Regions from separate parts of the Homo sapiens genome. Here all the other regions are linked to region 1. The links come from fine-mapping of genetic effects on gene expression. A gene starts in region 1. Each other region holds a variant in brackets. All regions are shown on one strand. Distances are from middle to middle.

Region 1 (8,173 bases):
CCCAGCACTTTGGGAGGCCGAGGCAGGTGGATCACTTGAGGCCAGGAGTTGGAGACTAGCCTGGCCAATGTGGAGAAACCCCGTCTCTGCTAAAAATACAAAAATTTTGCTGGGTGTGGTGGTGCCTGCCTATAGTCCCAGCTACTTAGGAGGCTGAGCCAGGAGAATCGCTTGAACCCAGGAGGCAGAGATTGCAGTGAGCTGAGATCCCACCACTGCACTTTAGCCTGGGTACAGAGCAAGACTCCATCGAAAGAAAGAAAGAAAGAAAGAAAGAAAGAAAGAAAGAGAGAGAGAGAGAGAAAGGAGGGAGGGAGGGAGGGAAACACAAGCCTGTTGTTACGTGAATAAAAATTAATCAGATATGTATTGAGTGCCTTTGTTAAGTTTAACAGATGTTTATGTGACTTAACTGTGGGCTGTGCACTGTTCTAAGCCCTTTACATAAATTACTTAAATCCTTCTATTATTATCCCCATTGGCCAGGCACGGTGGCTCACGCCTATAATCCCAGCACTTTGGGAGGCCAAGGCTGGCGGATCACCTAAGGTTGAGACCAGCCAGGCCAACATGGTGAAACCCCGTCTCTACTAAAAATGCAAAAATTAGCTGGGCATGGTGGCACACACCTGTAATCCCAGCTACTTGGGAGGCTGAGGCAGGAGAATCACTTGAACCTGGGAGGCGGAGGTTGCAGTGAGCCGAGATCGCACCACCGCACTCCAGCCTGGGAGACAGAGCAAGACTCTGTCTCAAAACAAAAAACAAAAAACAGGCCGCGTGCAATGGCTCACGCCTGTAATCCCAGCACTTTGGGAGGCTGAGGCTGGCAGATCACTTGAGGTCAGGAGTTCGAGATCAGCCTGGCCAACATGGTGAAACCCCATCTCTACTAAAAATACAAAAAATTAGGTGGGTGTGGTGGCGTACACCTGTAATTCCAGCTACTTGGGAGGCTGAGGCAGGTGAATCACTGGAACCCTGGAGACAGAGGTTGCAGTGAGCCAAGATTGTGCCACTGTACTCTAGCCTGGGTGACAGAGTGGGACTCCGTCTCAAAAAAAAAAAAAAAAAGGGACAGGGCTTCAGGGCATTCTGGCTTCTCCCAAAACAGTGGTGTGACTTTCTCTTCCCTATAATTCAGTTTATTCATTGGTGAAATGATGAAGTTGGTTGGGGGGAGCCCACCAGGAACCCAGGGCAGGTCCTATGGGAATGAGTGAAAAGTTTCTTTCCTCAGGAAAGTTTTGGGGTTCCTGGGTGGCAAGCTGCCTGCTGGACTTTAATTAATTAATTCATTAATTGAGCATCTATTACGTGAAGGCAGTGTTTGAAGCACTGGGGATCCTTCAAAGAACCAGTCCTGCCATGTAGGAGCTCATTGGTAGCTGTGGTATTTGGGAGGCCTCCAACCCTCCACCCACTGGGGCTGCTGGCTCTGGACTAATGGACCAGGCCTTTCCAAGCAGAGTGTGGAGCAGGACTGAGGCCTAGAAGAGAGAGGTTGTGTTCTCCCTGCAGCTCTGCCCCTCCCGTGGAGTGACCTTGCCCCTCTGGGCATTAGTTTCCTCACCCTCTTTTATGAACTGAAAGTTTGTGTTCCCCCCCCAAACTCACACACTGAAGTGCCAACCCTTGGTAAGATGGTATTTGGAGGTGGGGCCTTCAGGAGGTAATTAGGCTTAGATAAGGTTGTGAGGGTGGGACCCTACAATGGGATGAGTGTCTTTATAAGAAGGCAGAGAGACCGTGTGAGAATACGGCAAGAGTGCCACCATCTTCCAGCCAGGAAGAGGCCTTGCCAGGAGCCAAACCTACCAGCACCTTGCTCTTGGATTTCTCAGCCCTCAGAACTGCGAGAAATAAAAGGCTGTCATTAAGCCACTCAGTTTCTGGTATTGCATTATAGCAGCCTGAGCTGACTGAGACACCGTCTAAGGCGAGGTCAGATTGGATGGTCCCACCAGCCTGGGAGAAGTCTCCCACAGCCATTCCTAGTTAAACATTACCCACCCTACCTCCCTCCCTCCCTGCCACTCCCTCTCCCAGCTGCCTCCTCAGGGAGCCATAAACGCTGCCTTCTTTGGTCTTCTCCCAGGGCTGTGGTGTTCTGGGAAGAGCTACACCTGCTGTCTCACCTCTGCCAGAAGCCAGGGTCTGGAGAAGAAAGACTGGGGGTCTGGGGCAGGGGCTGGGATCTGGAGTGGGACACTCAGGCCTAGCCCCTCCACACACACACACACACACACAAGCACACACGGGTGTTTCTTCGTAGTCACATCATGCACAAGGTGCCTGCAGATCCTCCCAGGGGAGCTCATGGGCTGGCTTAATGAGCCCTTCAGGTGCCTGCCTCAGGCAAGACGCCCCAGCCTTCCTGGTTTCCAGGAAACAATAATTCAGAGAAACAGGGATGGCCTCACTGCGTGGGGCATCCCACTTCCGCCTCTGCTCCCAGGCCCCTCAGAAGCTAGGAGGGCAAGGCCCAGCTCTTATGCCCAATCTCACCCACCCAGGCATTTTAAATTAGGAGCCTGCATTAATAATCTTAGAATCCAGAATATGACACCACAAATTTCAGGAGGGGGAATCCTTGCCACATAGTACTTTACAATATCCCAAGAGCTTTCTTCTCATCTCATTCTTTCCCATCTTCAAAACAACTGTCAAATAGGTATCATTTCTTTGTGATCACCAGCATATCTTTGAAGACACTGAGGCTCCAGGTGATAAACTGGGTGAGTGGAGTGCCAGGATGGAGAGTCAAGTCTTTTGTCTCTGAAACCCAGACTTGTTTTATGCCTGGTTCTAGGGATAGCAGGGGACTGCACTCTCCACACCTCTGCCCATAACAGGCATCACTAATCGATCATGGTGTGGCAGACATTGCTAATCAACTGCAGTACTCTTTTTTACTAAGCTCAGAGGTGTCCATGAACTCTTTAAAACAACATTCCAGCCACCATCACCTATCAGAAGATCATATCTGTATTTGCCATTCTTGTGATACCACATCATCAGCCATGAGCCCTCAGGTCTCAGGTACAACTCCAAGATGCTCTAGTCACCAGACCATAGGACTCTACATACTGCATGCATGCTGTTCTTGGACAGGAATTACTGGCCCCTCTGGCCCCCAAACAGATGCCCCATCCAAGTGTCCCTCTTAGAGATACAACAAGCATGCAGGTATGCCCGGGGCTTCAGGGTTTGCTAGGTCTTTATTTTTTAATTTTTAATTAATTAATTTTTTTGAAACAAGGTCTTGCTCTATTGCCCAGGCTGGAGTGCAGTGGCAAGATTATAGCTCACTGCAGCCTTGAACTCCTGGGCTCAAGTGATCCTCTCATCTCAGCCTCCTGAGTAACTGGGAATACAGGTGTGTGCCACCATGCCCAGTTATTTTTTTTATTTTTAATATAGATAAGGTCTTGCTATGTTGCCCAGGCTGGTCTCAAACTCCTGAGCTCAAGTAATCCTCCTGCCTTGGCCTCCCAGAGTACTTGGATTACAGGCATGAACCACTGCATCTGGCCTAACAAAATTGTTTTTATCCCCACTTTACAGATTTGGAAACAGAAACACAGATGAAATTACGAACCCAAGTCACATAGCTTGGAAGCTGGGCTCCTAACCACTGGACATCAATCTTTCCACTGCTTCATGGTCTGTTGTATGAAAACAGTAATGTATCCATCTGTTCTATCCAACAGCCATTGCTTAATTTTGCAGACATGCTTCCATAGTGGTCTCAGAAGGTTTGGGGGTGGTTGTATTATCTGGCTTAGTTCCTGCAATGAGCCTGGGAGTGGGTAGTTGTACCATCCTCCAGATGAGAAAACTAGGGCTCAGAGAAGGAGAGTCACTTTCTGAAAGTTGGACAGCTCCAATGTGTGCTGTGATCCAGAGTTCCCCCAATTCCAGAGCTCAAGGGCTCTCTCTACCCCACATGAGCATCGGTCCCCACTGGCTTCTTCTCTCATCTCAGTCCCTGGCCGCCTGTCCTCCCTCCCCTAGAACACCCTCCTCATACCTGGCCTTTGGTCTTCCCTCCTCTCCACCCTCCACCATCCTCTTTCCAGAGAAGGGGCCCAACCGGAAGGCCAGTTCATGTTAGGAAATTCTAGCCACGTGAGCAAGCCTGAGCCAGGGATTCTGAGCAGCTGGTGGCTTTAGGAGAAACTGAAACTTGGCCCTCTGGGGGCGGAGTGGCCACTGGGGATTTAAAGAGCTGCCACTTCCTTAGGCCTCCAGAGGGCACTGGGAAGTCACAGCTGCTGAGGGACCACTCTGCTCCCCCGCCTAAGCCATGCACCTCTGTGGGGGCAATGGGCTGCTGACCCAGACAGTGAGTACAGGGGATTGGGGATCGGGGATGAGAAGGGGAGCTGGGATCCCGTCCTCAGTGCCCAGGCAGTGAGGGCTGCAGTCGGGAGCTCCTAGTCCCAGCTCTATACTCTGAGCAGTGTGACAGAGGGCTCTGCATGCCCCTCTCTGGGTCTCACTTTCCTCCCCCGAAGTCGGGATTGGATTGGAATGAGTTGTTTCCAGCTCTCACATTGCAGATCCAGCCTTCGGTTTAGAACTTGGCCTCTGTGTACTTGCTCTCTCCTAACGTACCTGGTCCCCCCTCACTACACTCACAGCAGCCTTTCCTTCCTTCTCCAAATAACCCAGGCCGGCTCATGCCTGTAATCCCAGCCCCTTGGGAGTCTGAGGCCGGCAGATAACATGAGGTTAGGAGTTCAAGATCAGCCTGGCCAACATGGCGAAACCCCGTCTCTACTAGAAATACAAAAATTAGCCAGGTGTGGCAGGGCACGTCTGTAGTCTCAGCTACTCGAGAGGCTGAGGCAGGAAAGTTGCTTGAACCCGGGAGATGGAGGTTGCAGTAAGCTGAGCTCATGTCACTGCACTCCAGCCTGGGTGACAGAGAGAGACTCTGTCTCAATAAAATAAAATAGGCCGGGCTCAGTGGCTCACACCTGTAATCCCAGCACTTTGGGAGGCTGAGGCGGGCAGATCACCTGAGGTCAGGAGATCGAGACCATCCTGGCCAACATGGTGAAACCCCGTCTCTATTAAAAATAGAAAAATTAGCTGGGCGTGGTGGAGGCACATGCCTGTAATCCCAGCTTCTCAGGAGGCTGAGGCAGGAGAATCACTTGAACCTGGGAGGCGGAGGTCGCAGTGAGCCAAGATCACGCCACTGCACTCCAGCCTGGGCGACAGAGACTCTGTCTCAATAAAATAAAATAAAATAAAATAAAGTAAAATAATAAATAAATTCCCTGGGCCATGGTTTCCCTTGGAGGCTCTGCTTATCTCACAGGAGCCCCCTTCACTCACCGTGGGTCCTGTCTCAGCCTTTAGTTTCTTGGTGCCCCAGTGTCTACAGTGAGCCCGCTGTGGACATGGCCCAAGGGAGCATATGGAGCAGGAGCCTAGGAGCATTCAGAATCTGCAGCCAGGGCGGCCAGGGCCTTGCCTGAGGTCCTTACCCTCAAAACACATACCCCAGAGAGACTTGGGGGCGGGGGCTGGGCTGTGAGCTCTCCAACAGTCCCTCTTGCTCTGACTTTGCAGAGCTCTGGACATTTGGGTAAAATATTTTATCTAAGTTTCATTGATCCCAGGGTACAAGGTGGTCACAACCTTTGAGTCCACTCTTCCACCGGAATAAACCCTTCATTCATTCATCCTTCGCTACCACCCCACTACAATGTGAGCAATTTCAGGGCAGGGATTTGTGTGTATTTTGTTTGCTATCATGTCCCTCTAGCTTACTGCCTGGAACATAGTAGGTGCTTATACATGTTTGTTGAGTAAGTGAATATCTGCTTTGGGCTTGAGCTGGGCATGAGCACAGAGAACCACATCTGCCCTCATGGAGCTCACAGTTAGGAAAGTTCACACCTTGGTGTGGAAATCATGGCAATGAGAAGAATGGAAGCTGAGCTTTATGGCACGCCGGCTCTGGGCTGCCTGCCGCATGGGCTTTAACCCTCTGCTGTGGTGCTTCCATTGCAGGGATGGGGCGATTGGGTTCAAGAATATGGGGCTCGGCTGGGCACGGTGGCTCACACCTGTAATCCCAGCACTTTGGGAGGCCGAGGCTGGTGAATCACCTGAGGTCAGGAGTTCAAGACCAGTTTGAGATGAGCCTGGCCAACATGAGGAAACCCCATCTCTACTAAAAATACAAAAATTGGCCAGGAATGGTGGCAGGTGCCTGTAGTCCCAGCTACTTGGGAGGCCGAGGCAGGAGAATTGCTTGAACCCGGGAGTCAGAGTTTGCAGTGAGCCAAGATAGAGCCGCTGCACTACTCCAGCCTGGGCAACAGAGTGAGACTCTGTCTCAAAAAAAAAGGAAAAAAGAATGTGGGGTTTGAAGTTGGCTCTGTCTGAGTTTGAATCTCAGGCTTCCCATCTTCCCTGCTTGCCCTCCCACCCTCCACATGAGCGGTGAGCAGGACACAGGGGTGAGGCTGGCGTTCCAACAAGGTGTGCAGTGCCTGCTATAGGGGGTGTGGGTGCCAAGGGAGCTTCTGGGAGATAAAAGACCCTTGGGAACTTGACTCAAGGGGAAAGACTTGGCTTTACAAATGGCGGGCCAGGACGGAGGGCACAAGGCCTGGCTGGGCCCCCTGAGTCCTCTGCCTCATGCCCCACAGGACCCCAAGGAGCAACAAAGGCAGCTGAAGAAGCAGAAGAACCGGGCAGCCGCCCAGCGAAGCCGGCAGAAGCACACAGACAAGGCAGACGCCCTGCACCAGGTGTGGACAACCCCTAACCCCTTTCCTTGTCTCTGGCTCCACTTACTGGCCCAGCCACCTCTTCTCCATCCCACCTTTGAGCAGACCTCCCCCAAACTCCTGTATTTTTCTAGGTCACCTGAGTTTGGGATGAGAAAAGGATCCTGTGGCTGACATTTGGAAAGTTCTGGGTGTTGAGTACAAACCATGTGCCAGGTACACACCAGGCTCCAGGGACACAAAGGGTCATCCTCAGCCCAGCCGTGTCCTAAGGTGTCCGCAGTCTAGGGGAAGGAAGACAGGAAGTGGAGGCAAATAGGGAGACCCCAACACAATGGCCAGCTGAGACACTGGTTAAAATGCAGATTCCAGGCTGGGCACTGTGGCTCACACCTGTAATCCTAGCACTTTGGGAGGCTGAGGCTGGAGGATTGTTTGAGCCCAGGAGTTCAAGACCAGCCTGGGCAATATAGTGAGACTCTGTCTCTACAAAAATTAAAAAATAGTTAGCTGGGCGTGATGGTGCACACCTGTAGTCCCAGCTACTCAGGAAACTGAGGCAGGAGGATCGCTTGAGCCCAGAAGTTCAAGGCTGCAGTGAGCCATGATTGTACCACTGCATCCAACCTGGGCAACAGATTGAGACCCTGTCTATAGAAAAAAAAAAGTGGATTATTCTTCCTCTGCCAGGTCCCACCTCATGAGGCCAGGTGGGCCCAGGGACCTGCACGGTGATTTGTGATTAATCACCTGGGGGTCAGAATTCAGGAGGTGACCAAGACCATACTGTGAGAACTCTGGTTCAGGGTTAAAATGGGCAGGGTTTCCAGTCCCAGTTGCAAGTTGCTTCCTTTACTGAGCTTCATGCTCATCTGAAAATACCATAAACAGTGGCTTAAACAATAGACATTTATTTCTCACAGTTTTGGAGGCTGGGAAGTCCAAGATCAAGGTGCCAGCCAATTCAGTTCCAGATGAGGGTGCTCTTCCTGACTTGTAAGTGGCTGCCTTCTCGCTGTGTGCTCATGGCCTCTCAGTGCATGTGAGAGGACAGAGTGATCTCTTTCCCTTCCTCTCCTTTTTGGGATTTTTGTTGTTGTTGTCATTTTTGAGACAGAGTCTCACTCTGTTGCCCAGACTGGAGTGCAGTGGCGCCACTTGGCTCACTACAACCTCTACCTCCTGGGTTCAAGTGATCCTCCTGCCTCAGCCTCCTGAGTAGCTAGGATTACAGGCATGCGCCACTACGCCCACCTAATTTTTGTATTTTTAGCAGAGACGGGGTTTCACCATGTTGGCCAGGCTGGTCTCAAACTCCTGGCTTTAAGTGATCTGCCCGCCTCAGCCTCCCAAAGTGCTGGGATTACAGGCGTGAACCACTGCACCTGGCCCCCTCCTTTTGTTTTAATTTTTTATTC
Region 2 (8,173 bases), 92 kb before region 1:
TGCCTCCTAGGTTCAAGTGATTCTCCTGCCTCAGCCTCCCGAGTAGCTGAGATTACAGGTGCACACCACCATGCCCAGCTAGTTTTTTTGTATTTTTAGTAGAGACAGGGTTTCACTATGTTAGCCAGGCTGGTCTCGAACTCCTGACCTCAGGTGATCCGCCCACCTCGGCCTCCCAAAGTGCTAGGATTACAGGCATGAGCCACTGCACCTGGCCTAACGTTCCTCTTTAAATGCTCGTCCTGTCCAGTTCCTCATGTGCATTACCACCTTACCAAGCGGAAATCCCCTCACTGATGAGTTAAAGATCTTTTTTTTTTTTTTTTTTTTTTTGAGACAAGGTCTCACTATGCCCCCAGGCCGGACTGCAAAGATGCAAGCAGGGCTCGAATTCCTGGGCTCAAATGACCCTCCCGCCTCAGCCTCCCAAGTAGGGGGTACTACAGGCAAGGGCCACCACAACCAGCTAATTTTATTTTTTTTTAATTTTTAGTAGTGAGGAGGTTTCACTATGTTGCCCAGGCTGGTCTCAAACTCCTGAGCTCAAGTGATCCTCTCAGGCTCACTTTGGGAGCTCAGCCTCCCAAAGTGCTGGGATTACAGGCATGAGCCACCGCACCCGGCCTAATAAATCTTTGTTACGTGTTCATTCTATATTTAGACGTAGGTTTTAACTTTTTGAAAAGTACACTTTGACAAAACATATGATTTTTAAAAATGCTTTAAACTTATGCATGTATATGTACATCTAGATGTATGAAGTTACCGTTACATAAAGAAGGGACCTAAAAGATGCCAAGTCACCAAACTGGGGAAGGGGGTACTTCAGTGGTGGGGATGCAGCAGGGAGACTGTTACATTTTCCTCTGCATGCTTGTGTATTATGCAAATATTTTACAAGAACATATTCATATATACATACATACATATATGTGTGTGTATATATATATATATATATTTTTTTTTTTTTTTTTTTCTTGAGATGGAGTTTTGATCTTGTTGCCCAGGCTGCAGTGCAATGGCACAATCTCGGCTCACCGCAACCTCCACCTCCTAGGTTCAAGCGATTCTCCTGCCTCAGCCTCCCGAGTAGCTGGGATTACAGGCATGCGCCTCCATGCCCGGCTAATTTTGTTTTTGTTCTTGTTTTTTTTTGAGACACAGTCTTGGTCTGTCGCCCAGGCTGGAGTGCAGTGGCTCGATCTTGGCTCAGTGTAACCTCTGCCTCCTGGGTTCAAGTGATTCTCCTGCCTCAGCCTCCCAAGTAGCTGGGATTACAGGCATGCACCACCATACCCAGCTAATTTTTGTATTTTAGTAGAGACGGGGTTTCACCATGTTGGTCAGGCTGGTCTTGAACTCCCAACCTCGTGATCCGCCCGCCTCAGCCTCCCAAAGTGCTGGGATTACAAGCGTGAGCCACTGCGCCCAGCTTAATTTTATATTTTTAGTAGAGACAGGGTTTCTCCATGTTGTTCAGACTGGTCTCAAACTCCCGTCCTCAGGTCATTTGCCTGCCTCAGCCTCCCAAAGTGCTGGGATTACAGGTGTGAGCCACCGCACCCAGCCCATATTCATATATTACATGTATATAATTTTTAAAAATTAGGAGCTAGGGGTAGGCACAGTGGCTCACACCTCTAATCCCAGTACTTTGGGAGGCCAAAGAGAGTGGATCACCTGAGGTCAGGAGTTCAAGAGCAGCCTGGCCAACATAGTGAAATACCATGTCTACTGAAAATACAAAAATTAGCTGGGTATGGTGGCAGGCGCCTGTAATCCTGGCTACTTGGGAGACTGAGGCATGAGAATCACTTGAACCCGGGAGGCGGAGGTTGCAGTGGGCCGAGATCATGCCACTGCACTCCAGTCTGCGCGATAGAGTGAGACTCTGTCTCAAAAATAAAATAAAATTAGGAGCTAGGAACTTTAATGTATAAAAGTTCATTTGTATTCAAATGAGGACTGAGGTCCAAACAATTGTTTCAACAGTGGGACCACAGCTGGGCCTTGGGGCATTACCCCTTTCATGTGGTTAGGATGGGGCTCTGAAGAACTATTGTGCTTGTCTGGAGACTGGGCAGCAAGCACAGATGGTGGGTGCAGGCTCTAATCCCACTGCTGGGAGGCAGCCTGTGGGTCTTGGGCTGACCTGGGACCTAACTTTTGGGGCAAACAGTTGGGCAGGAGGCAGTGGGGTGGCTGAGTTCGAAATCAAGTCCTCTCCTCCTCCCTCCTCTTCTCCTGCTTCAATCCCTGGGAGCTTTCATGTCACTCCACACCATTTCTGGCTGTTTTATTGGCATATTTTGTTGACGGCCCTGGAGTTCTCACCTTTTTCTTTTCTTTTCTTTTTTTCTCTGTCACCCAGCTTGGAGTACAGTGGCATGATCATAGTTCACTGCAGCCTGGGACTCCTGGGGTCCAGCAATCCTCCCATCTCAGCCTCCTGAGTAGCTGGGACTAAAGGCACACACCACCACACTCAGCAAATTTTTTTTTTTTTTTTTTTAGAGATGGGGTCTTGCTGGCCAGGAGCGGTGGCTCACACCTGTAATCCCAGCACTTTGGGAGGCCAAGGCAGGCGGATCACCTGAGGTTGGGAGTTCAAGACCAGCCTGACCAACATGGAGAAACCCTGTCTCTACTAAAAATACAAAATTAGCTGTGCGTGGTGGCACATGCCTGTAATCCTACTTGGGAGGCTGAGGTAGGAGAATCGCTTGAATCCAGGAGGCGGAGGTTGCGGTGAGCCGAGATCGCGCCATCGCACTCCAGCCTGGGCAACAAGAGTGAAACTACATCTCAAAAAAGAGAGAGATGGGGTCTTGCTGTCTCCCAAGCTGGTCTTGAACTCCTGGCCCAAGACAGTCCTCCCACCTGGGCCTCTGAAAGTGCTGGGGTTGCAGGTGTGAGCTACCGCACCCAGCCTAGTTCTCATCTCTCACATGCATGGAGGAGATTTCTTCCTCCTGGCTTGCATGTGACCCTGCTCACTCAGCACAGCCTCAGGTAGTATCGGATCTTCGTTTCAGTATTGACTCTCTCCCTCACTGGCTATAACAGCTTGAGGAAGACCATCCTCCCTCTGCCTCAGACTCAAGTGTCAAATAGGACTTATGCCACCAGCCCCAGCTGTCTCATGGGACTCTTAGACTGACAGAGGTGAAAATGCTCCAAGCACCTGAAGGTGGCGGAGCAGAAAGCTGACCAGCATCAGGTCCTGTAAGAACATCTTGGGAGAGAATGGAAAAGCCAGGTGCCTTCTGGGCCACACCTGGGAAGGGCACGGGGAAGGTCCCGGGACAGCTCTGAAGAATCTGTTGATCCTTCCCTTCTCGTAATTCCTCTCCACCAGAGGGTAGAGCAAATACAGGCCTCCCCTCACCTGGGAATGCCTTCCAGCTATGCAGCTGGGTCCTCATCTCTCATCTGCCTAAGACTTGCTGTAAATCTAGACCACGCCCCTCAACTTTTCTGAGCCCCAGTTCTTCATCTGTAGACTGTGTTCACACTGCCTCCGTTTTGGGAAACTTGAGACATGCATAAAAGCGTCTAGAGTGAGTATGGGATAACTAGGGCTGCTGCCCCTTCGCCATTGCCATGGGCCCCCACTGATCTCACAATTCAAAGCACCCCTACCACCCGTGAGGCACTCCTGTGTTGGCTGGAATCAGCCTGTGTTCTAGAATCTTGTCCCCTCCACTGTCCTCCTGGTTCTAGAATCCCACTGCTATTCCATACCAGGCACTTTAGAACCAGAGACTCTGCTGCTTTTCCTGGGCAGGGCCTGCTTGCTCCAGCTCTCAAGTCTGACTTGCATCTACACTGCGGGCAAGATGTGGCTGCAAGACCGCAT[C/T]GCCACGTTCTTCTTCCCAAAAGGCATGATGCTCACCACGGCTGCGCTGATGCTCTTCTTCTTACACCTGGGCATCTTCATCAGAGACGTGCACAACTTCTGCATCACCTACCACTATGACCACATGAGCTTTCACTACACGGTCGTCCTGATGGTAGGCTCAGGGCAGGGACGCAAGGGCTGGCTGTGGGAGACCCGAGGGGCTGATGGAAACCCCACTGTTGTGCGAGGGGGCCACTCTCCCACTGGATGGGCCTACAGTTCTCCCAGGTGATCAGCATCTGCTGGGCTGCCATGGGGTCACTCTATGCTGAGATGACAGAAAACAAGTACGTCTGCTTCTCCGCCCTGACCATCCTGAGTGAGTGGCAGGAGTGGGAGGGTGCAAGAGGGAGCGGGGAGCTTTGGAACCCTGAGATGTGGCAAGGAGTAGCCAGGGAAGGGTACTGGGGCTCATGGGGGGCTCTGTCCCCCGCCCAGTGCTCAACGGAGCCATGTTCTTCAACCGCCTGTCCTTGGAGTTTCTGGCCATCGAGTACCGGGAGGAGCACCACTGAGGCCTGGGGAGTCGGAACAGGGCTAAGGAGGGGGAAGCAAAAGGCTGCCTCGGGTGTTTTAATAAAGTTGTTGTTTATTTCCACCTGCCAGCTCCTTCATGGGGCGAGGGGTCGGAGGCTGGAGACCCGGGAGGAAAGCAAGTCAAGACAAATGCTTGACCCACGGGGACTCCAGGCCTGGCCTGCAGCCACTCTGGTGGACTTGGCTTTGGGTCTGGGGTCTTAGTGTCTTAGGCTTGAGGGAGAGGGGCAGTGAAGAGGTGCCCTCAGCCTCCCCATTACCCCGCCTCTCCTCCACAGAACCCACATCCTAGGCTGGCCTAGCCACAAGCAAGGGGGCTCAGGAGGGGCCCACGCGGATGTGAGGGTTCATGAGTGGGTCCAGGTTGGGATCGCTGTCAGCTGCGGCCCGGCCTAGGCGAGACATGAGGGCAAGGAGGGCCAGGAAGCCCAGCAGTCCCAAGAGTAGCAGCAGCCCCGCCCGCTGGAGCAGGGTCAGCGGCCGCTTCCGAGACCCAGCCCGGCTCCTGGGGGGATGAGGGGAAAATCAGGTCAGGCCCCAGTCCCTGGTGGCCCCCGCGGCTGGAGAGAAGCCCTGGTCACCACCCATTCCTGAGCCTCCATCTCCTCGTCTGTGCCTCAGGGATGATCACTCCTGCACCTGCCACCATAGGGCGTTATTGTGCAGCTCAAACCAGCTGAGGCGCACGACTGTATTCTGGAAACCACAGTGTGTCAGACGTCGGGGAGAATTACAAAGATTAGGGGGTGTCAGATCGGGAAGGGGCCTCAAAGAGCCTGAGTTCAAACCTCCTGTGTAGGAGGCATAGAGACAGTCCCAGAGAGAAGCAAAACACAGCTTCTGCTGCACAGCCAAGGCCTCTCTGCACAGCCCCAGCACCAGGTACTGTTACTCCCCAGAACAAGCCCCTTTTGTCATGAAACCATCCCTTCCAGGACCTCTGGCTCCCATTCCCTCTCCACCCCTTCCTGGCATTCCGCCCTGCCTGACCCTGTGTACCTTAGCAGCCGGGCCAGCCAACCCAAGGCCGGCCGACGTCGGTACTTGTCATCGTCACAGTCTCCATGGAGGCCTGGTGTCCGGTCATCATCCCGCGTATCATACACCTTCCTAGGGGCTACAGGGTGGAGCCACTAGCATCAATAGACTCAGGAAAACTGGCCGCTTTGGGGAGGGCTAGGGGGATCACCTGCTCTCCTCAGTCTGACAGAACATCTCAGAATTGTGAGGAGGTAATGGCTGTGCCTGGATTAAGGAAAGGTTCCTCCGGGTGGGTCTCTGGATCCTCAAGCTCCCCCTATACAAACCATTCCACCCTCTTCCTATCCTTCTGCGGCCTGGATAACTCCCAGGCTCACCGTGAGTCAAGGGCTCAGGATTGCCCATGTGGATCACTGTGTGCTGCTCGGGCCGGCCTGGGGAAGCTGGGGGCCGGGGGGCCTGGCTGTAGAAGGCTGGGGCAGCAGAGGCGCTGTCTACCTCCTCTGGTCCAGGGGTACTGCTGGCTGTGGGTGGAAAGAGAGCCGTCAGCAGAAGCAGTGCATAGAGCTCAGGGGTAGAGCATGTGACTGCAGACCAAGGGAGCTGTCAGCAGAGCAGGGAGGCTAAAGCCCAAACAGTCGGTGGAAGCCACCACTTACCATTAAAACTAGACCAGTCAGAGAAGTCAGACGTGTTGAGGGGCTCGGGCTCTGGGCTCACCACCTCATCGATCTGGAGGAAGGAATCTGGGTCACCAGGCTGCCTAGTATTGTCCCCACCCACCCATCTGACTCAGGTGGGGCCCAGGGCAGATAGATGGTCAGACAGACGAGGGACTCTCACCAGAGGGAGGCCCAGTCCTGCCCGGGCCCAGTTGACTGTGGCCAGCTTCTCTCTCAGTGCGGAGGCCACGGGGCCAGCCAGGTTGGTTGGGGGGAAGATGGGGCCATTGCAGCTGGGGCACTGATAGCCGGCAGGTGCCGTGTTTCGGGGTAGCTGGGCAGCACGTTCATTGAGGCAGGCCCAGTGAAAGAGATCTTAGGGCCCATGAGACAGGGGAGAAGAGACATGAGGAAGAAGACACTTAGGGCTCCTAGCCTAGCAATAGTCCCCAGACCATTGCAGGACATATGGACACATGTGTGTGTGCCAGAGCCTTCTCCTCCCCGTCCTGTTCCCTAAAATGTCAGTCTTCTTGGCTACCACCATCTAAGTCCAGGCAGGTGCTACCAAGCTGTCCAGCTCACAGGGGTAAGTTTGGGTAGGAAGAAAACGCCACCTCCCCTTTCAGTCCTTTCAATGAGTCCTCTCTGGGCCTGCACTCATCATATTCTTTGGGCTAATGGCTAATAATGAACAGTTTCAGAAAAGGTTCCTCGATACACACACAGGCACACATATACATGTACACATCCCTGGGCACAAATGTACATGTCCTTATAAGCACATAATCAAACACAAGTGGCATTCCCTATATCTACACTATGGGTACAGGAGCCCTCACACATACACATCTATACACTCACAGGTTTGCTAACAGGCACCCTCAACCATGCATTCTCTTGCACTCCCACAACACACCTGTGTTCATATGTTCACATACATACATTTACCCATTCATTCACCCCAAGTACAGATCAACACACTAACACTCATTTAAACACACAATGTACATTAAGTGCCTGCAAGTACACACATGCACTCACAAGGAGAAACACATATGGAGCTGACTCTTGCATGAGCTCCTTCAAAAACTGGAGCTAAGGCTCTTACCCCAGATTCAGGTCAAAGTCATGACACATATGTCTGCTGACTTCTTTTAGCTAACTTTAATGTGGGAAACTCACTTCCTCTCTGTTTAGCCTTGGAATCAGTGGTGGATCCTGAATATCTGAAAGCAACATGCCGGTCTGGCTAGCTAATAGTCACGGCCACCAGCATACCCGTAAGCTTGACTGGTTCTCGCTGAAACCTCCAGATTGGCAGGGCTTAATTTTTAGGAAAGAGGAACTAGGAGCTTTAATTTTTAGGAAAGACAGTGAGGCCTAGAAAGGAAGAATAACTTGCCTGAACTTACACAGCAGGTAAGGAACTTTAACAGGACTAGAATCTGGGCTCTGAGACTCGGGGGACTCACTGTCCTGCTGCTTGAGGAGGGCCTGGAAACCAGTCACCAAGCTGGCCCCTGAGGCTGGCCTGATCCCCCCGAGGTGCCAAGGCCTCACCATAGCAGACAAGGCGGGTCGTCTCTCGGCTGGCCAGGGGTATGTTGCACAGGCGGCAATTGGGGTTGTAGTCGCTATCTTGGAGCCATTGCAGGTAGGACTGGACGATGCACTGGAGTGGGAGAGAGATGTCACAACTGGTGCTGGGGCTGCTCGGCCTATCACCCCAAGGTCCGACTGTCTCTTTTTCTCTAGCCACAGAGGAGACTCATCCTTTCGTTTGTTTAATCAATAAATATTTATTGAGCACATACTGTGCACCAGACTCTCTCTTGGGAACGGGGGATATATCAGTGAACAAAATAAATCAAGTCCTTGCCCTTGTGGGGCTTACATTCTAGCGCGGGGCCCCTCATGGATTTGGAGGAAGCCAATACCGCCTTGCCCACCCAGTGCCCTGCTCAGTCGCTCCCCTGAAGGCCCCACCTTGGCGTGATTGGCTACCAGGCAGTGCTCGCAGACGTTGACCCGATGTTCGAAGCAGAACAGGTTGGTCACCTTTCTCTTGGGGCACTTACAAAGCCCCATG
Region 3 (8,173 bases), 69 kb after region 1:
GGGGCTCCTGGATCTTCACAAACTGGGAGGGCTCGATGACATCAAGAATCTCTTCCATCTCCCCCAGAAACATCACCTGGGTGGGTTGGGGAGGGGAGTAGGGACAGAGGGGCAGCAGCTCACATCTCCCCCTACACATACACACACCTGACTGCCTTCTAGAGGCCGAGCCCTCCCAGCCTCCCTCTGGCGGGCATCAAAGCCCTTCTTCATACCTCCTTCTGGGTGCAGGTTTTTGGCCAGTATTTGAGCAGCCCCCGGATCACCTGTGGGAGATGAGACAGGAGTCACGCCTGCAGAGGTGAGAGGCTGCCTTAGCCCCCAGAGGTACTCACGTGCTCTGTCAGAGTGGCATCCTTCTCCAGGAACTGCACCACACAGTATGCCAGCTGCAGGGGGTGACAGGTGGAGGGAAGGAAGACAGGTCAGGAAGGCACCAGGCGCCAAGGACTTGCTGTCCAGGACAGAATGCCAAATACTGCTCACCCACGGCCTGTTACTTTCTTATTCACCAAGCATTTATCACCTGCCTAGGATGTACCAGGCATCACATTCAGTGTGCTGGGAATACAACTCTGATCTCGCGGGGAGTGGGGACAGTCAACAAACTCATCTTTATAAATTTTGCAAAAGGTTCCATAATATGGCTAGTGTGGTGGCTCACGCCTGTAATCCAAGCACTTTGGGAGGCCGAGGCAGCAGAATCACTTGAGCCTGGGAGTTTGAGACCAGCCTAGGTAACATAGCAAGACACTGTCTCTACAAAAAAAAAATTTTTTTTAATTAGCCAGGCATGTGGCACATACATCTGTGGTCCCAGCTACTCGGGAGGCTGAGAAGGGAGGACTGCTTGAGCCCAGCAGGTAGAGGCTTCAGTGAGCCATGTTCATACCACTGCTCTCCAGCTGAGGCAACAGAGTACGGTTTTGTCTCAAAAAAAAAAATTGTGTATCAAAATCTCCCATAATAGATTTGTGTATCCAAATATTTGGGAATATAGATGGAGAAGAATGTAATTCTGCCAAGGGAGGGTAGAGAAGAAAAGCCTGGCTTCACAGAGCTGATATCTGAGGTTAGCCTTAAAGCGCCAGTGGGAATTTTCTAAGGTAGATGGAACAGAATTATAAAGACAAAGAAGGTGAGATAGGATCCCTGGAGGATCTGACCTCCAGGACCCACTGGCTGCCCTGACTGTCTGGAGCTCCTGCTGCAGCAGGGACAGGCCTGGGCCTCACCTGGGCATGGAAGACAGACAGCGACTTGACAGAGTGCAGGGGGATCAGGACGCGAACCAGGAACTGCTTGTGCTCCGTCTTCAGGGGCAGCGCAAAGCCATTGATGATGCTGAGGAGGAGGCAGAAGAGAGGAAGAGGGCTCAGGTGACCTGGCCCCAGTCCCTCCTTCCAGAATCCTGAGCTCCAGCTGAGGCCCAGGGAGAATCACCTTCCTAGGATCTCCAGCAGCTCAGCCACACCATTGAAGTGCTCGAATTCATAGATGAACCTGCAAGAGAAGAACGCAGGTGGGCTCAAAGCAAGCAGGGTAGGCCCAGTGCCCCCTTAGGCATCCTGCCTGCCCACCCTCACCTGCACGGCACGCTCATCCAACTCTCCCCCAACCCAGAGGCTGCGCTCCCTTCCCAACATCCCAAACCAGGCCCCATTGAGATCCCCGCCCCCCCACACTGAAATGCCCTTCTCAGCCCAGCCACCTCTGCCACTGAGTCCCAAGCTCAAGGCTCTCTTGCCAGTCAACCAAGAGAATGACAAACACTTAGCACATCTACTCCGTACCATGTAAGTCTCAGAATTATCCAGGGAGATGGGGCTTAAGAAATCCATCACATGGATGAAGAAATCAAGACTCAGCGGTTAAATAAAACAACCCCAATGTTAATAGGCAGGGAATCTAATGAACTCCAAGGTGCAGGAGGACAGGGATCATGGCTCACCCATTTTGTAGCTAATAACAACTAATGTTTCAGAGTCCCGGCCTCAGTCCAGGAGCTATGCTGAGTGCTTTGCAGGCAAGGCCCCATGTCACCTCGATAATGGTCCCTGAGTTAGTACAAGCAGCATCCCCATTTTTATCTTATCTTTGAGATGGAATCTCGCTCTGTCGCCCAGGCAGGAGTGCAGTGGCGCAATCTTGGCTCACTGCAACCTCCACCTCCCAGGCTCAAGCGATTCTCCTGCCTCAGCCTCCTGAGTAGCTGGGATTGCAGGTGTTTACCACCACACTCAGCTAATTTTTGTATTTTTAGTAGAGACGGAGTTTCACCACGTTGGCCAGGCTGATCTTGAACTCCTGATCTCAAGTGATCTGCCCACCTCCAACTCCCAAAGTGCTGGGATTACAGGCATGAGCCACTGCACCCAGCCAGCATTCCCATTTTAAAGACGAGCAAACTAGGAGAGAGCTTAAGTAATTTGCCAAAGTTCACCCAAACGTTGGAACCAAACTCAAATGTAGGCCATACAGCTTCAGAGCCATGGTCTCAACTACAAGGCCACGTGAGCCTTGATGCCCAGTGGGTGCTGGTGCTCAGTGCATGTTTGCAGAAAGAATCTCTCTCTGGGTCCTTATGGCCTGGCATGATAAGGGTCAAATGATTTAGCTCCTAGGCCCCTGGACTGACCCAGTCCCTGCAAACCATTTCATCTCTCTTGGCCTCTACTTTCTCATCTGTAAAATGGAAATAAATACCCATTCTCTGTCAACTTCACAGGCTTTGTATAATCAATATGTAATACGTTACTGAGAAAGGGCTTGGAAAACAGAAGTTCTACAAGGGCCCCTGCAGCCCAGGAGCCTTTGCTGCAGTCTTCTTTTTTTTTGTTTTCTTTTCTTTTTTTTTTTGAGACACAGTCTCCCCGTTGCCCAGGCTGGAGTGCAGTGGCATGATCTCGGCTCACTGTAAACTCCACCTCCTGGGTTCATCCGTCTCGCTCTGTCGCCCAGGCCGGACTGCGGACTGCAGTGGCGCAGTCTCGGCTCACTGCAAGCTCCGCTTCCCGGGTTCACGCCATTCTCCTGCCTCAGCCTCCCGAGTAGCTGGGACTACAGGCGCCCGCCACCGCGCCCGGCTAATTTTTTGTATTTTTAGTAGAGACGGGGTTTCACCTGGGTTCAAGTAATTCTTGTCTCAGCGTCCCAAGTAGCTGGAATTACAGGTGCCCACCACCATGCCTGGCTAATGTTTGTATTTTTATTAGAGACGGGGTTTCACCATGTTGGCCAGGTTGGTCTCAAACTCCTCACCTTAGGTGATCCACCCACCTCGGCCTCCCAAAGTGCTGGGATTACAGGTGTGAGCCACCGCACATGGCCTTTGCCGCAGTCTTCTAACAGCCCTCTCACCCTCCCCAGGTCTCTGCTGGGCAGGCAGCAGCCACTCACCGGAGGAAGATGTGGTTGCACTGTTTGCGGATGTAGGCCCGGAGACCCAGGAACTTGCCATAGACCCGGTGCAGGATGGTCTTGAGGTACTCACGCTCCCGGGGATCCTCACTATCAAATAGCTCCAGGAGCTGTGGGAACCAGAGTCAGGGTCAGGGTCAGGGTCAGGGGAAAGGTCCACCCCAGGTTGCTTCCATCCTATCCCTGGCCCCTCAGAGAGCCTGCCCCTGCCTTGTGGTACCACCCAGCCTGGGCTCCCCACTTCACCATCAGGACAAACTTTTGATCCACATATCTCTTGGCCACGGAGGGCTGGAAGTCTGGGCTCTCCAAGAAACGCAGGAAAAACTCATATACCAGCTGGGGGAGGGGGACAGACAAAAAGGTGAGTTCAGTAACAGCCTCACCCACTCATTCCACCCTATGGCCCTCATCCAACTGTCTAGGGGCTAAGGAGGCCCTCTCCCCATGCCTTGGATCTCTTCTGAAACTTGGATCTCTGTCTTCCCCAACCCTTCAGACCTGCAGGTGTGGCCACGAAGGCTCAAGATTGGGCTCATCCTCTTCAGGGTCAAATTCAGGGTTCTCACTGGGCGGCAGAGTCCGGAAGATATTCACTGAGATCTGAGTGGCAGAGTTGGGGTTCATTAAGGAAAAGCCCTTGAAGACAGAAGCCAGGGAGTCTCTCATTCAAAGCTTTTTTTTTTTTTTTCTTTCCCAAGACAGGGTCTCGCTCTGTTGCCCAAGCTGGAGCGCAGTGGTACAATCTCGACTCACTGCAACCTCAACCTCCCAGGCAGGCTCAAGCGATCCTCCCACCTCAGCCTTCTGAGTAGCTGGACTACAGTAGCACACCACTATGCCCGGCAAATTTTTAAATTTTTGTAGTGATGCGGTCTCACTGTCAGGCTGGTCTTGAACCCCTTGCCTCAAGTGATCCTCTCGCCTTGGCCCAAAGTGCTGGGATTACAGATGAGAGCTGCTGCTCCCGGCCCTCATTCAAAGTTCTAATGGGTTGATTTCAGCATCTGCCCCAGCAAGCAGTTCATTCCTTGGGCAATCATCACCTGAACGCCTAGTTCGTGCAAGCCCTGGGCCAGGGGCTGGGAACCCAGGGGTGAATGGGACACATC[C/T]CTGCCTTCTAGGCAGGTGCAATCCAGTGGGGAGAACAAGGCTAGAAGCTGTGAGGTCTACGGGCAGGAAAAGGGAGATTTCCAGCTTGGTTATTGACAGCGGCTTCTTGGCAGAGGCGGCACCTGAGCCAGGCCATGGATGGTATGGGGTGTGGGGCAGGGCACTCCAGGTCTCAGGCAAGCATAAGCAAAGGTGTGGACGTGGGGCAGGCCCGGAGGCATTCAGTGGGTGTTGGGCAGCAGCAGGTCGGGGGGAAGGAAGACGTGGACTGAGGCCAAGCCGATGAGTACAGGGTTATTCTCCACGCAGGGGTCCTGCGGACAGGAAACGGGGCTCACACGCCCTCTCGGCCGGCCCTCGGAGCCTGGGTGGCAGGTGCTCACCATGCGGATGATGTCTGGGTAGACGGGCTCGATGAGGACACCCCGGGTGCTCCCCACACACTCCACCAGCTCGTTGAGGGCTGCCCGCTTCACCTCCTTCCCCTTGAGGTCGGCCACACAGTCCAAGAAGTCAAACATCACCCCACACTGGGCCAGCTTCCGGCTCAGCAGCTCGTGCAGCTCGGAAGCCGGCACATCTGGGGAGGAGAGGGCATCCTGGGCCTGGGCCCCAGCTCCCCCAGCTGCCCCAGCTGTGGGTGGGGCAGACCCTCCTAATCTCCACGGCTGCCTCTGCTGCCCCCAGGCCCCATGCTCTTGTGCCATCTCCTGCTCCTTGCAGACAGCAAACAACTACTGTCCCTTCCTCCATTCCTGGGGGTTGAGGGTTGCTTTTCTTCCTCCTAATCCAGGCTCAGAGAGTATGATGGCCTGAGTTTTAAAGCAAGATCACAAATCCTGGATGCAGCAGCTTTCCACAGGTGCCCCAAACAGCTGCTGCCTCCCTCTCAGGTGGCACCCTGTTCTAAGGGCCAGAAATGGGGAGGGGTTCAGGGCCAAGGATCTCTACGGTGTCCTCAGGCTTGGCCAGTCTGGCCCTATGGCCCAAGGCTGGGGAAGGGACCTATGTGGTGATCCCAGGGAACCCTGCCAAGCGCCTGCTCCAGGGATCTGGCAGCTGGCTGGGCTGATAGTGGCCCCCTGGAACCCAGGCTATGGGCCCCACCCTTGGCCTTGGTCTGCCCCTAGGGTGGCACCACCTTCGGATGTCCCACCTCTAAGGATGACAGGCCAGTCAGGCCATGTGTCAGCAGAGAGGGCTGGAGGGCTGGGGTCAGTTCTGATGGCGGAGAACCTAGCCTGGAGGGGTATCCAAACTCTCTCTCTTGGCAGCTGCCCGCTGCCTCCCACCCCTCCCCATGGCCCTGCTGGTCCCCTCGGGGGTTCGGTTCCCCCAGTGGCCAGCAGCCAGCTCACCTTTGAGCAGGGGCAGCGGTGTGAGCTCTTGCTGGTTGCTCTGATAGCGGAACTGAGAGGAGCTGTGGGAGCGGCGGGGCCGGGCTCTGCGGAGGGAACGGCGGGAGAAGCCGTCCACCTTGTCGGGTGGGGGCACAGGCGACAGCCCGGGGGAGGAGGGGCTAGTGGGGGTGCTTGCAGGGGGCAGCTTCGTCTCCATGGCGGTCAGGCGGCAGGGCAAGCTTTCAGAGCCCCGGGGGTTCTCTCTGGGCCTGGGAGGTGCTGGGTGAGACTGGACAGACTAACTTGGTCCCATCCTGTCCGGCCTTTGGGGGGGGGGCACAACCACAGTCCTGGGCCCCCCCCCAGGGCCTCCTGCAACTGCCCAGTCCTGGGGGGCAGACAGGGTAGAAAGGAGGATGGCTCAGGCCTCAGATCCTTCCTGGGGGTCCCGAAGAGTCCAGTTAGGGTTCCCACCCTGGCTCTTTTGAAAACGAAGTCAGGCAGAAAGATCAGCAAGAAAGAGACAGAGAAAGCCCATCAGTTCCTCAGGAGAGCCGGGAGGCTGCGTGGAGTGCCCAGGTCTTTTCCCTCCTATCCTTGCCCAGACCCTAAAATAGGGGTGCAGCCCCCTCCCATCCTGGACATGTCCCTCCCTTCTCTCAGACAGAAAGCCTCCAAAACAACCCCTCCCAGAATAGGGCCTATCCCCCAAGCCAGCCCCGACTCAGAATGGAGCCCCGATCGTCATCCCTGCCCCTTTCAGAATGGAACGCATCGCTGCTCCACTAATCCCGGCCACTTGGGACAACCCCAAGACTGGAGGTGCTGTCCCGATGCCACCCCGCTCCTAGAACCTGGCACCCTCCCCCACCTCAGCTCCTCCTTCCTGGCCCCCCAAACCTCATGGGGTGGGGGACACTCACTTCTCGAAAACCTAGACTTCGGTCGCCAACCCCCGGGGGCTGCCCGTAGGGAGGGCGACGGCCGTTCAGGGCCCCTTCGCAGCGGTTCCGCTCGGGGCGCTGGGGCTGGGCGGCGGCGCTCCTGGGTTCTCTCCCGGGCTCCGGGGGGGCGGCTAGAGCATGCCCCCAACTCAGCCCCGGGCCGGGACTGGGCGCTCGGCGGGCTCTGCACCGGCCGTCGCAGCGCGCGGATCTCCGCTGAAGTCCTGGGACTCCGACCCAACGCGGTGCAGCGCAACGGGAGCCCCGGCTCGGCTCCGTGCGCACCGGCACCCGCCGCCCAGCTGCTCAGGATGACATCAAGTCACCTCCCCCCACCCGGCCCGCACCTCCCCGCGGGCTGAAAGGGGGGGCTGCGTCAGGAAGGCCCGGGGCCGCTGGGAGATGTAGTCCCCGCGCCGTTTAAAGTGAGCTGCCAGACCAAAGGGGACACCCCTGAGGGCAGACTCGGGGGTGAAGGCCGAAGCTTTTGAAGCCAGAGAGCAGAGTGGGATGGGCTCTAGCCGGGGGCGGGAAGCCTGGATTCTAGAAGGGAGGCTGCATAGGGAAAGAGGAGGGCTTAGGAGTTTGCACCAGGAAAGTAGGGTGATGCCAGGACACTGACAGGAAGGAGTCGCAGCAAGCTACGCTAGGCCCACAGATTTGGCCTGGGCCTTCTATGCCCTAGGCCATCCCCCCAGGAACCTCACCCTTACCCCAGAACCACCAGACACTTCAGAAACCCCTTGGAAACCAGCACTGGACTAGTTAAAAGTCTGCGATGAGTCAGTGCTTGCTGGGAGGGGTGTGGTGCACCCAAGCCTGCTGGGAGATGCAGTCCATCCTCAGGCCTGCAGTCCCCCTCCCGTCCCTTGCTGTCTATGGTGACATCATGGTCTCCAGTTTAAAGGGCCAGTCTTGGAGTGGCAAAGCCCGAGAGGAGGAGGTTTTCTCCTTGAGCTGCCACCTCATCCCAGGCAGCCTGGCCTTCCCGGATGGACCTTTCAGCCCCCCTGGACCCTAAGATGTGCTGGGTGGGTCAGTGTCTCTTGCTCAAAATCCTGCTGCTGGCATGCAAGGCACAGGTGGGAGTCCAGGAGTTTGGCATGCTAACCAAAAGTTCCCAGCCTGCAGTCCTGGGCCCCCGTCCTAGGATCCTGGACCCCAACACTCTTTATAGCCCTGAACTCCATCCCGCTACACTGCTGTGAAATCTCCACCCTGAAATGTTGCCTGGATGAGCAGCTGGTCCATGGTGAGCAGTAGGAAAGGGTGATGAGACCAGATAATGAGGTCGGGGAGGGGACTAGGGGCCTTTTCAGAGTCTGCCCCATCTTGCTTTGGGTCTTGGTGACCACT

The links.
Region 2: its variant is fine-mapped to the expression of BATF2 in whole blood (INTERVAL, PIP 0.90).
Region 3: its variant is fine-mapped to the expression of BATF2 in whole blood (TOPMed, PIP above 0.99).

Annotation. Positions count from the first base shown.
Region 1 is chr11:64,993,051-65,001,223 of GRCh38, reverse strand. It overlaps BATF2 (basic leucine zipper ATF-like transcription factor 2), which reads left to right and starts at 4,253. Exons shown (of 3, transcript NM_138456.4): 1 at 4,253-4,348; 2 at 6,675-6,776. The coding sequence starts at 4,310. RefSeq lists a cis regulatory region at 1,971-3,109 and an enhancer at 4,354-4,854.
Region 2 is chr11:65,084,698-65,092,870 of GRCh38, reverse strand. It overlaps ZFPL1 (zinc finger protein like 1), which reads right to left. Exons shown (of 8, transcript NM_006782.4): 2 at 8,071-8,173; 3 at 7,645-7,756; 4 at 6,263-6,456; 5 at 6,079-6,151; 6 at 5,797-5,943; 7 at 5,438-5,555; 8 at 4,473-4,943. The coding sequence starts at 8,172. The coding sequence ends at 4,757. It overlaps CATSPERH (catsper channel auxiliary subunit eta), which reads left to right and starts at 3,761. Exons shown (of 3, transcript NM_001282448.2): 1 at 3,761-4,013; 2 at 4,121-4,220; 3 at 4,340-4,495. The coding sequence starts at 3,840. The coding sequence ends at 4,416. RefSeq lists a silencer at 2,803-2,975 and an enhancer at 7,346-7,930. The variant C/T (reference allele first, on the strand shown) is at 3,860.
Region 3 is chr11:64,923,652-64,931,824 of GRCh38, reverse strand. PPP2R5B (protein phosphatase 2 regulatory subunit B'beta) reads right to left here and starts at 7,136. Exons shown (of 14, transcript NM_006244.4): 1 at 6,797-7,136; 2 at 5,892-6,354; 3 at 4,917-5,113; 4 at 3,922-4,023; 5 at 3,667-3,759; 6 at 3,400-3,530; 7 at 1,444-1,503; 8 at 1,236-1,344; 9 at 336-389; 10 at 216-266; 11 at 1-76. The coding sequence starts at 6,090. RefSeq lists enhancers at 3,230-4,429, 7,378-7,547, 7,688-7,757, 7,378-8,173 and silencers at 6,838-6,947, 7,048-7,267. The variant C/T (reference allele first, on the strand shown) is at 4,533.